Homo sapiens: one gene and its partner. The protein of the gene in region 1 purifies or fractionates together with the protein of each later gene. This does not show direct contact. Each region holds a gene or a part of one and is shown in the gene's direction. Other genes may lie near its edges.

The links.
Region 2: the proteins of MAPKBP1 (region 1) and CREB3L2 purify together in Homo sapiens (co-immunoprecipitation; one large-scale study listed by IntAct). This does not show direct contact.

Annotation. Positions count from the first base shown.
Region 1 is NC_000015.10:41,776,773-41,781,975, forward strand, and holds part of MAPKBP1 (mitogen-activated protein kinase-binding protein 1), read left to right. Parts: intron 1-5,203. UniProt on the Homo sapiens protein: Negative regulator of NOD2 function. It down-regulates NOD2-induced processes such as activation of NF-kappa-B signaling, IL8 secretion and antibacterial response. Involved in JNK signaling pathway.
Region 2 is NC_000007.14:137,904,587-137,908,937, reverse strand, and holds part of CREB3L2 (cyclic AMP-responsive element-binding protein 3-like protein 2), read left to right. Parts: intron 1-501; coding exon 502-686; intron 687-3,089; coding exon 3,090-3,236; intron 3,237-4,351. UniProt on the Homo sapiens protein: Transcription factor involved in unfolded protein response (UPR).

The DNA of each region.
Region 1 (5,203 bases):
ACTGTAATTTTGGTCTGGAATCCAGAAAGTATAGTTGCCATTCTTTAAGACTTCCAATATCATCCATTATTAATGCATTTAACAAGTGTTTATTGAGTGCCTATGAAGTGTGCAATCAGTGATGGGTAAAACATTACCCTTGCCATCAAAGAGCTTATGGCTAGTCAGACATGTAAACAATTAAAACACGGTGTGGTAAGTGCTGCTGTAGAAGTATGTGTACGTTGTTAATGGAAGCACAGGGGAGGCGACCTAAGTCAGTTCAGAGGAATTAGGAAAGGCTTCACAGGCCAGGCATGGTGGCTCACCCCTGTAATCCCAGCACTTTGGGAGGCCAAGGCGGATGGATCACTAGGTCAGGAGTTCGAAACCAGCCTGGTCAAGATGGTGAAACCTCATCTCTACTAAAAATACAAAAATTAGCCGGGCGTGGTGGTGCATGTCTGTAATCCCAGCTACTCGGGAGGCTGAGGCAGGAGACTCGCCTGAACCCGGGAGGCTGAGGTTGCAGTGAGCTCAGATCCTGCCAGTGCACTCTAGCCTGGGTAACAGAGCAAGACTCCGTCTCAAAAAAAAAAAAAAAAGGAAAGGCTTCACAGAGGAAGGGATGCTTGAACTGTGAGTCCTAAGGCAGGTGGAGAAGAGCTCTCCAGGAAAACAGTGGAAAAGGGGCATCCCTGGCAAGACCATTTACCATTCCCTGTTTAAAATAGGAATTCAGTGCTTCAGACTGCTTTAGATGGCTTTGTCTGTCCTGAAGCTGTGTATGAAAGAAATACTTAGCTGAAGTTGAATGACCCTTGAATGGTCTGGCAGCAAAATGACTGGTGCATATCTTTAGCACCCAAGAGGAGTAGCTGTCTTTGTGCGCCCAGGACCCTAGAGATGCCAGACTCCCCACACTCCTTAGTAAAAGGTCTCTACCTGAGATTATTCTAAAAGCCTGCCTTGTGATTACTCTAGTGTATTAAGCTCTGTGAGTTGCTCTAACATGTGGTGGCTGTGAGTAATCATGATAACAGGAAATTTGTGATTCATGGATAGCTAATTCTCAAATAAAATTTGAAGACAAAAAGGTACATGCCCCTTTTGGGGGGCAAAGAAGGAAATGTCAGAAAGCTTTTATGCAGCTCTTACTTCAGATGGCCTCCTGCTTTGAATTATACTGTTCTTTCTATCTAAAGTAGCCTTCTCCTTTACACCAAATTGTACACTTATTTTTAGGTCCAATTCTGTATTTATCAGAGCCACAGGGCTTTCTGTGACTAGTCCCCCACCTTGAAACCAATATCTTATTGTTATTTTATGTATGTCTTCATTTCCTAAGGATCGGGGTCATGCTCTTTATTTCCTTTACATCACACCGTTTAGGACAGTGTAAGATAGGCAGTAAGTACTAAAAAAAATAAATGAGACTAATTTAAAGATGTCAAATATAGTGCGGGATAAACTTGGACATCCAGGTGAATAAAATAATCAGGAGGAATTTATGACCTCTTTAGAAGAGAGATCAAAACTACGATTAATAAAATGGTGACAAAGAAGTAGAGATGCAGCCTAATTAGGTGTGAAGAACATAAGAGAGAAGAAGTCCACGTATGCAGAAAGCAGTGCTCAGTAAAGGGTTCTTAATTCAGGGGAGACCTAGTTAAAAATATGGCTAAAAGCTGGTGTGAGAGAGCCAGTGGAGGTGGAGATTTAAGTTACATCAAAGAGTAGATGAGTGCTGAGATTTTTATTAAGCTTTTTCAGAGGGAGGGGAGTCTCTTCAGTGGAGTACATTGGAAAAGACTGATTTAAAGTTTTATGCTAAATCAGCTTAGTCTTGGTGAAGTGTGACTTGAAGTTATCAGTAAATACCCAAGTTCAAATCCTGTAGACTTGTCATTTCCTGCCTCTCATCTCTAAGTTGGGCTGTGTTTTCCTTAAGAAGCAAATGTATGTGTTCTTGATAGCTAACCCTCCTCCTCTGAAAGTTTCTGAAAGATTTTTATGTGGAGGGAGCTGGGCTTGTTTTCAAGGACAAAGGATAGAAATGGACCAAAGCCCAGCAGGCAAGATTTAAGTTAGGGTTACAAAAGGATTGTCTGTGCTGGAGGGTTGCTAGATTTTTAAAAAGTAACTGAAGGAGGTATTGAGATCGTCCTCCTCCTTAAGAGCCATTAATCTGATCTAGGTTATATTATTCCTTCTGGAAACAATGGGTAAGATGACTTTCTTCTAGTTGTGTTTTTTTAATTGTAAATCTAATTCTTCTTTCTCTATTTGTTTCCCCAAGTTTTTTTCCTGTATAGTTGTGTGGTGGTACTTCGAGCCTTTTGAGAAGTGACTCTAAGAAGAGTTTGGTTGGGTGGGTTTCATGAAGGAGAAAAAGTGGCAATACTCTAATTTCAGCTTTTGCTCAGTGTTTGAACGCATATATGATTTGGTATTGGGGAAACATACTCATTTTTTTCGAGACGGAGTCTTGCTCTGTTGCCCAGGCTGGAGTACAGTGGCGTGATCTCGGCTCACTGCAAACTCTGCCTCCCGGGTTCAAGCGATTCTCCTGCCTCAGCCTCCTGAGTAGCTGGGATTACAGGCGCGTGCCACCACGCCGGGCTAATTTTTTTATTTTTAGTAGAAACGGTGTTTCACCATGTTGGTCAGGCTGGTCTCAAACTCCTGACCTCGTGATCTGCCTGCCTCAGCCTCCCAAAGTGCTGGGATTACAGGTATGAGCCACCACGCCCGGCCAGTTATTTTTGTTTTTTGTAGAGACAGAGTCTTACGATGTTGCTCAGGCTGGTCTCAAACTTCTGGCCTCAAGGGCTCCTCCTGCCACAGCCTCCCAAAGTGCTGGGATTACAGGCATGAGCCACCATGCCCAGCCCCTGCCTTTCTGAGTAGCTGGGACTAGTGGTGCTTGCCTCTGCGCCAGGCTCCAGTCATTTCTTAGTGTTCAATACACACGCTCTGAGTTCTCCACATAGAATAGATGACTAAGAGTGGATGTCCCTGTGGCCAGCAGCTATGCCCCTCACCAGCCTTTGTGAATGACCTTCAAAGCTCTTGTTGAATTTTCTGTCTCTGAGGTCTCTTGAAATAAGGCTTGTGAAGTGTCTTGAGATCCTCACAACAGGTGGTATACAATGAAAAATGTCAATGTTCTCCTAGTTTTGTTTCTTTGATCACCATTTCATCCCTCCTTCCGGTGCCTGCAGCTGCCCTCAGCCTTCAAAGTGATTCTCACTGGAGAGAGAGGATGCTTCTCTCCCTGGACCCAACACCTCTTCATTTACTGTCTAAAAATAGCCCAGCCTCTTCAGGCTGGGAGTTGTCTTTCGAAACCTCCTCTCACCTACTTGGCCTCACTCATTTCAAAGTGGAAGAGCACTACTGCTTTCCAAGTTTTTCTCTCTTTCAGTTTGCAATTTAGGGCAGGTTCCCTTCTTGGATTTGAGTCAATGTCTTATTTCCTGCTGGTATTTTGAATGTCTTTCATTTGTCACCTGTGTATTTTCATTTCTTGACTGATGAAAAAACAGGTAGAAATGAGGCTTCAGCCTGACATCTGTAACCTCCCCACCAACCCTCTGAGTCTGAAGTTGGGCTTGATGCTGTTATCACTGACCCTTTGTTTGGAGAAAACAGTCCAAGGTTTGAAATTGGGGCTATGTTTATTCAAACTAAGCTTCTCTGAGCACATGGTCTGTCCCACTCATCCTCAGAGTATCCGTTGGTTTTACTTCATGTTCAGACTGCAGTGTTGTTAAAGAAATAAAGCTACAGTGTTTTCAGAAGGATTTGTTATATTATACTTCATGTTCCCACTGCTCCAGGCTAAGCGTCTCCTCTGGGCTCCATTGTTTAATGCAGGACAAAGCCAGGTTTTCTGGCAGCTTCCTTTTCATAGCAATTCTCAGTAGAGGTATAGAATGAGACCTGCCTACCTTCTTGGGTGTTTATTACCCCATTTGTGGATTTTACTTTAACTTCTGTTACCTTAAAAAAAAAAAAAAAAGTTGGTGAGGAAGGCAAGAAATAAAAGTGAGTATGACAGCCAGACTGGGTAGTGTGGATTTTTAGCGTTGGTATTTTTGAATGTCCAGATTTTCCAAATCCTTCCTTCCTTCCTTTCAACAGTTATAGCAACAGGTCCAGTGCTTCTTCATTGGTCACATTATTTTCCTCTGGTTTTGAAGGACACTTAACAGAAGAATGAGTTTACAGTATGGATAGCTCCTCCTAGATTTCAAGGGAGTAAATTCCCCCCTCTCATTTTGTCACAATGTTTGCAATGCTTTTTTTTTGCTTTTTTTTTTTTCCTTTTTTCTTTTTTGAGACAGAGTCTCACTCTGTCACCTAGGCTGAAGTGCAGTGGCGTGATCTCAGCTCACTGCAACCTCCACCTCCCGGGTTCAAGTGATTCTCTTGCCTCAGCCTCCCGAGTAGCTGGGATTACAGGCATGTGCCACCATGCCTGGCTACTTTTTGTTTTTTCAGTAGAGACAGGATTTCAACATGTTGGCCAGGCTGGTCTCGAACTCCTGACCTCAAGTGATCTGCCTGCCTCGGCCTCCAAAAGTGTGCAATGCTTTTTTTGGTTGCTTCCCTATTTGGTAAAACAATGCTGTGGGTTTTTTTGTTTTTTTTTTTTTCTTGCTGGGATTTTAAAGTTTATATGCCTTATCTCTCCTCCTAAAACTGTAATGAAGCTAAAGATATTTTCCTTTCCCTGCTATGCCGGGCATGGTGGTGCACACCTATAGCCCCAGCATCTTAGGAGGCTGAGGCGGGATGATTGCTCGAGCCCAGGAGTTTGAGGCTGCAGTGAGCTATGATGGCACCACTGTATTCCAGCCTGGGCAACAGAGTGAGACCCCATCTTAAAAACAAACAAAAACTGTCTGCCCCTCTGTTTATAATTGAGATTTTAATTTACTTGAAGATCTTAGAACAACCCTTTGTGAAACCATATGGCTGATTTTTTTTTTTCCACTTTGTCAAATGTTCTTTTGGAGAAATCCTGAGAAGAAAGTTTATTTGGTGGTTCAGGATTTGAGTGTTGCTCCTTATTTATCACAGTTCTCATCAGCCTTTGAGACCCATCTTCCTTTAGTGGCTCTTCTGGTCTTTTCTTCATAAGTTTGGCTGATGCTGTTACAGATGCTAGCACTTAAGAAAACAAGACTTTAAAAAATTATGAAATACAGGCCGGGCG
Region 2 (4,351 bases), on another chromosome or scaffold:
TTAGCATGATCTCGGCTCACTGCAATCTCTGCCTCCTGGGTTCAAGCGATTCTCCTGCCTCAGCCTCCTGAGTAGCAGCTGGGATTATAGGCACGTGCCACCACGCCAGGCTAATTTTGTATTTTTAGTAGAGATGGGGTTTCGCCATGTTGGTCAGGCTGGTCACAAACTCCTGACCTCAGGTGATCTGCCCACCTCAGCCTCCCAAAGTGCTGGGATTACAGCCATGAGCCACCTTGCCTGGCCCCTGGTCGCACGTTTATTGGTTTCTTGTATTCACTTCCAGTGTTTCTTTCTGCCAGTATAAGCAAATGTGGGTCTATATCCTCTTTCTCTCCTTTTTCATACAAAAGGAGGACTCCCATATCCACGCTCTGCACCTTGGAGATCTGTCCAGGTCAGCTCATGGAGGCCCCTCACACTTTAGTTTGCTATGCCACAAATCAGTTGTGTCCTGCTTTGTGGCTCTGGGATGGATGAGATGTGCTTCCTTTTTTGCAGCCCCAGTGGACCACCTGCATTTGCCGCCCACCCCTCCGAGCAGTCACGGCAGTGACTCAGAGGGCAGCCTGAGTCCCAACCCACGCCTGCACCCCTTCAGCCTGCCTCAGACCCACAGCCCCTCCAGAGCTGCACCCCGGGCCCCCTCCGCCCTCTCCAGCTCCCCTCTCCTCACGGCTCCTCATGTAAGTATGCAGCGGGCATTCCTGGACCAAAGGGAACCCTCTCCATTCATTCCCCTGGGGCTGTATCCAGAGCAGGACCACTCAAGGCTGTTTGGTTTTTACTTTTGTCAAGAAGTTTCTGCTTAATGGCGAAAGCAGAGTGATGTCAACCCTAAAGAACACTTTCTAGGAACTGCCCGCACATCTCACCTTTTACTACCACAATTCTCTTCCTTTTCACATGCACACTTCCAGTTTTTATTCATATGTTTATTTTACAGAGCTATAGACATGAGGAATAAAAATTTGGGGTTTTTCTCCTCAAAGTTCTATCATAAATATTTGCATTAATTTAATGGTCCTTGTGACCTATGTCATAGGAAATACCTTTTATATTTTAAAGAAGCAATTTTTGGTGAACTTAAAAATTACTCTGAGATTAATTTCTTTGATGCCTAAAGGTCAAAAACAGTTTAAGCCTTTTCTGTGTGTCATATGACTCTTAACCCAGAAACTCAGATCAGACATCAAGACCCCTCGTTCATCCCTCCCATACATGAGGACACCATAATAAAGAAGAATAGATCGTTAACTCCTTATTGTTCTAGGAGTGAATTGATTTCTATGAAATTTTAAAAATTATAATCAGCTATTTTGAATTCACAATCTCACAACTAGAAAATTTAAATGAAATGAGATGTTTTAAAATTCTGTAAGTACCATCCGTCCATTAATTAACATAACTTTGAAAATTTGTATTGATTCTGTCCCTGAAAGTTCTAGATCTGCAACCACATTCTTAAATTTCATCGTTACTGAGGACAAGGGAATTCACCCTTCCACTCTTTCTTCACCTTTTCACCTTGAACCTGACTTCACTCCTTGGATTACTAGAATAGCTTGTATCCTATATACCTGTGTGTACTACTATGATCTGTCCATTCTACATGTTTATGGAGGAACTCTTCCCCATGTCGGATGCTTGCCCAACAACTATGTTGTATTTCCCTGTTACTTGTTGGTACCAAGCCCTGACACCTTTACTCATTATCAGGTATCCAACCCTCCGCTGCTTCAAGAACTCCTTACCCACACTAGGCAGTGGCTTCTTCAGTGACTTTTCAAAATACTGCCTTTTGCTTAGAATGCACTCCTCTCTCTTATGTAAATCATCCCCTTTCTTTCAGGAGGCCCAATTCAAATCTCATCTCCTGCCCTAAACGTTTCCTGATCACACAACTCATAGTAGTGTTCTCTTACTTCAAATTTTTAGTACACCTTTAGCTAATGTATTAGTCCATTTTCATGCTGCTGATAAAGACATACCCGAGATTGGGCAATTTACAAGAGAAAGAGGTTTAATTGGACTTACAGTTCCACGTGGCTAGGGAAACCTCACAATCATGGTGGAAGGCGAGGAGGAGCAAGTCATGTCTTACATGGATGGCAGCAGGCAAAGAGAGAGCTTGTGCAGTGCAACTCCTGTTTTTTAAAACCATCAGATCTTGTGAGATTCATTCACTCTCACAAAAGCAGCATGGGAAAGACTCACCCCATAATTCAGTCATCTCCCACTGGGTCCCTCCCACAACACGTGGGAATTATGGGAGCTATAAAATGAGATTTGGGTGGGGACACAGAGCCAAACCATATCAGCTAAGATTACAGTTTAGCATTTAATTACTCTTATCCTTTCATGGGTATCAGTTCAGTCTCACAGTCTTGATCACAAGCTGCTTGAGAGGTAGGGTTTGTTTTGAGTCCTCCATGGCATTTAGTATGGAGCTAAAATGCAATAGGGACTCTGTTTGATTAATTATAAACATGCCATTCTACTGTGGGTTCCATGAGATGTGCTACTGTTCTTGTCTTCATTGTTGATGGACATTCTGAGACTGCTGAAGCCAGAGGCTTCTGTGGAAAGAGTCTGCAGATGTGTCCCTGGGTGCTCTGCACTCTTAGCTAAAAGTGGAGGAGAGAATTGACTCCTGTTGTGTAGAGAGCACCTTATAAAACTGCATTTTCAGAAGGAGAACAACAAAATTCTTGCACAAAGCAGGGCTGCAAATGAATCCTTCATCACTCCAAGGCCAGGAAATCTCTAGGGATGTGGGAAATGACTTCTCTGCTTTTTCTTTTCATGTTTTAGCGAGTAGGGTGCTTCCCGGGAAATAATGGGTGGAGGCTTCTTTATTCTTTCCCTTGAATTATAATCCCTAGGTTATAACACTCACATGGGGGTGTCTTCCCCATCTTCCCATGCCCTTCAAAATACCCATCTGTCACCCAAAGCAGATGGGGCATCCTTGTCTCAGAGCCTTCTGTAAGACATTGTAACAGATTCTCATCATCCCATTGGGAGGTGATTCTTCAGTGGTCCCAGTTCTTTTTCTTTGACCCTTTTCTGCTCCTTGGTCTGCACAGAAACTGCAGGGATCAGGCCCTCTGGTCCTGACAGAGGAGGAGAAGAGGACCCTGATCGCTGAGGGCTATCCCATCCCCACCAAATTGCCCCTGTCAAAATCAGAGGAGAAGGCCCTGAAGAAAATTCGGAGGAAGATCAAGAATAAGGTGAGCTCTTCAAATCTAGGCACTTCTAGAGCAGAGACGAGCAGAATCGAGTCAGCATCCCTTTCCCTGCCTTCCCAACGGCCAGCACTACCCCATCCCATGGTGGAGACCAAGGCCCAGCCCTTCCCTTCCCTAAGCCCTGGGAGGAGCACCCTCACCACGTGCCCCTCTCTTCCTCCAGCCCATCCCATCCCTCTTGAGGCCAGCAGACTCCCAGATCAGTATCTACCTCTTTGGTGCCCACGATGATACATTTACGGGTGGGAGGAAGCTATTAGAATTTCCATCTAGTTTTTTTTTTTTTTTTTTAACTCAGCCTTTTAAATTTTGGGTGTATGATATATACAATAGTTTCCTCTAGTAGACATATATATGTACTCTATGTATCTATATAAAATACAGCATATATATATATTATATATATATAAGATACAAATACATTGCAAGTGCTTGGTTAATTTTTTTTTTTCTTGGTAGGGTTTTGTGATCACAAAACTTCTGCAGTTTGCTGGTCTATATTTGGACTCAGTAGTCTCCTACCCCTGGGCCCCTCAGTGCTGAGCAGGCCTGATGAAAACCAGGGGGATGGCTGAGGCACAGGCCTACCAGGAGGGAGGGGGCAAAGAGGGAAGGAAGACAAGAGCTTAGTGTCACTCTATCCATGTGCGGAACCAGCAGCAAGTTGATGTATGACCAAGCCAGCTGTCTTATTTTATATATGTACTTCAGCCAGCAGAGGTCCAGGAGTTAAACTCATTTATCTGAGACCACACTGATGGTTTGTGAGCCACATGTTCTGGCCTGGCTCTTCACTCAGTGTCCATTGTTTTCTTTTCTTTTCTTTCTTTCTTTTTTTTTTTTTTCATACAGAGTCTCACTCTGTCACCCAGGCTGGAGTGTAGTGGCATGATCTCGGCTCACTGCAACCTCTGCCTCCCAGGTTCAAGTGATTCTCCTACCTCAGCCTCCCAAGCATCTGGAACCACAGACGTGTGCCACCATGCCCGGCTAATTTTTTTGTTTTTTGTTTTTTGTTTTGAGATGGAGTCTCTCTCTGTCACCTAGGCTGGAGTGCAGTGGCACAATGTCAGCTCACTGCAACCTCTGCCTCCCGG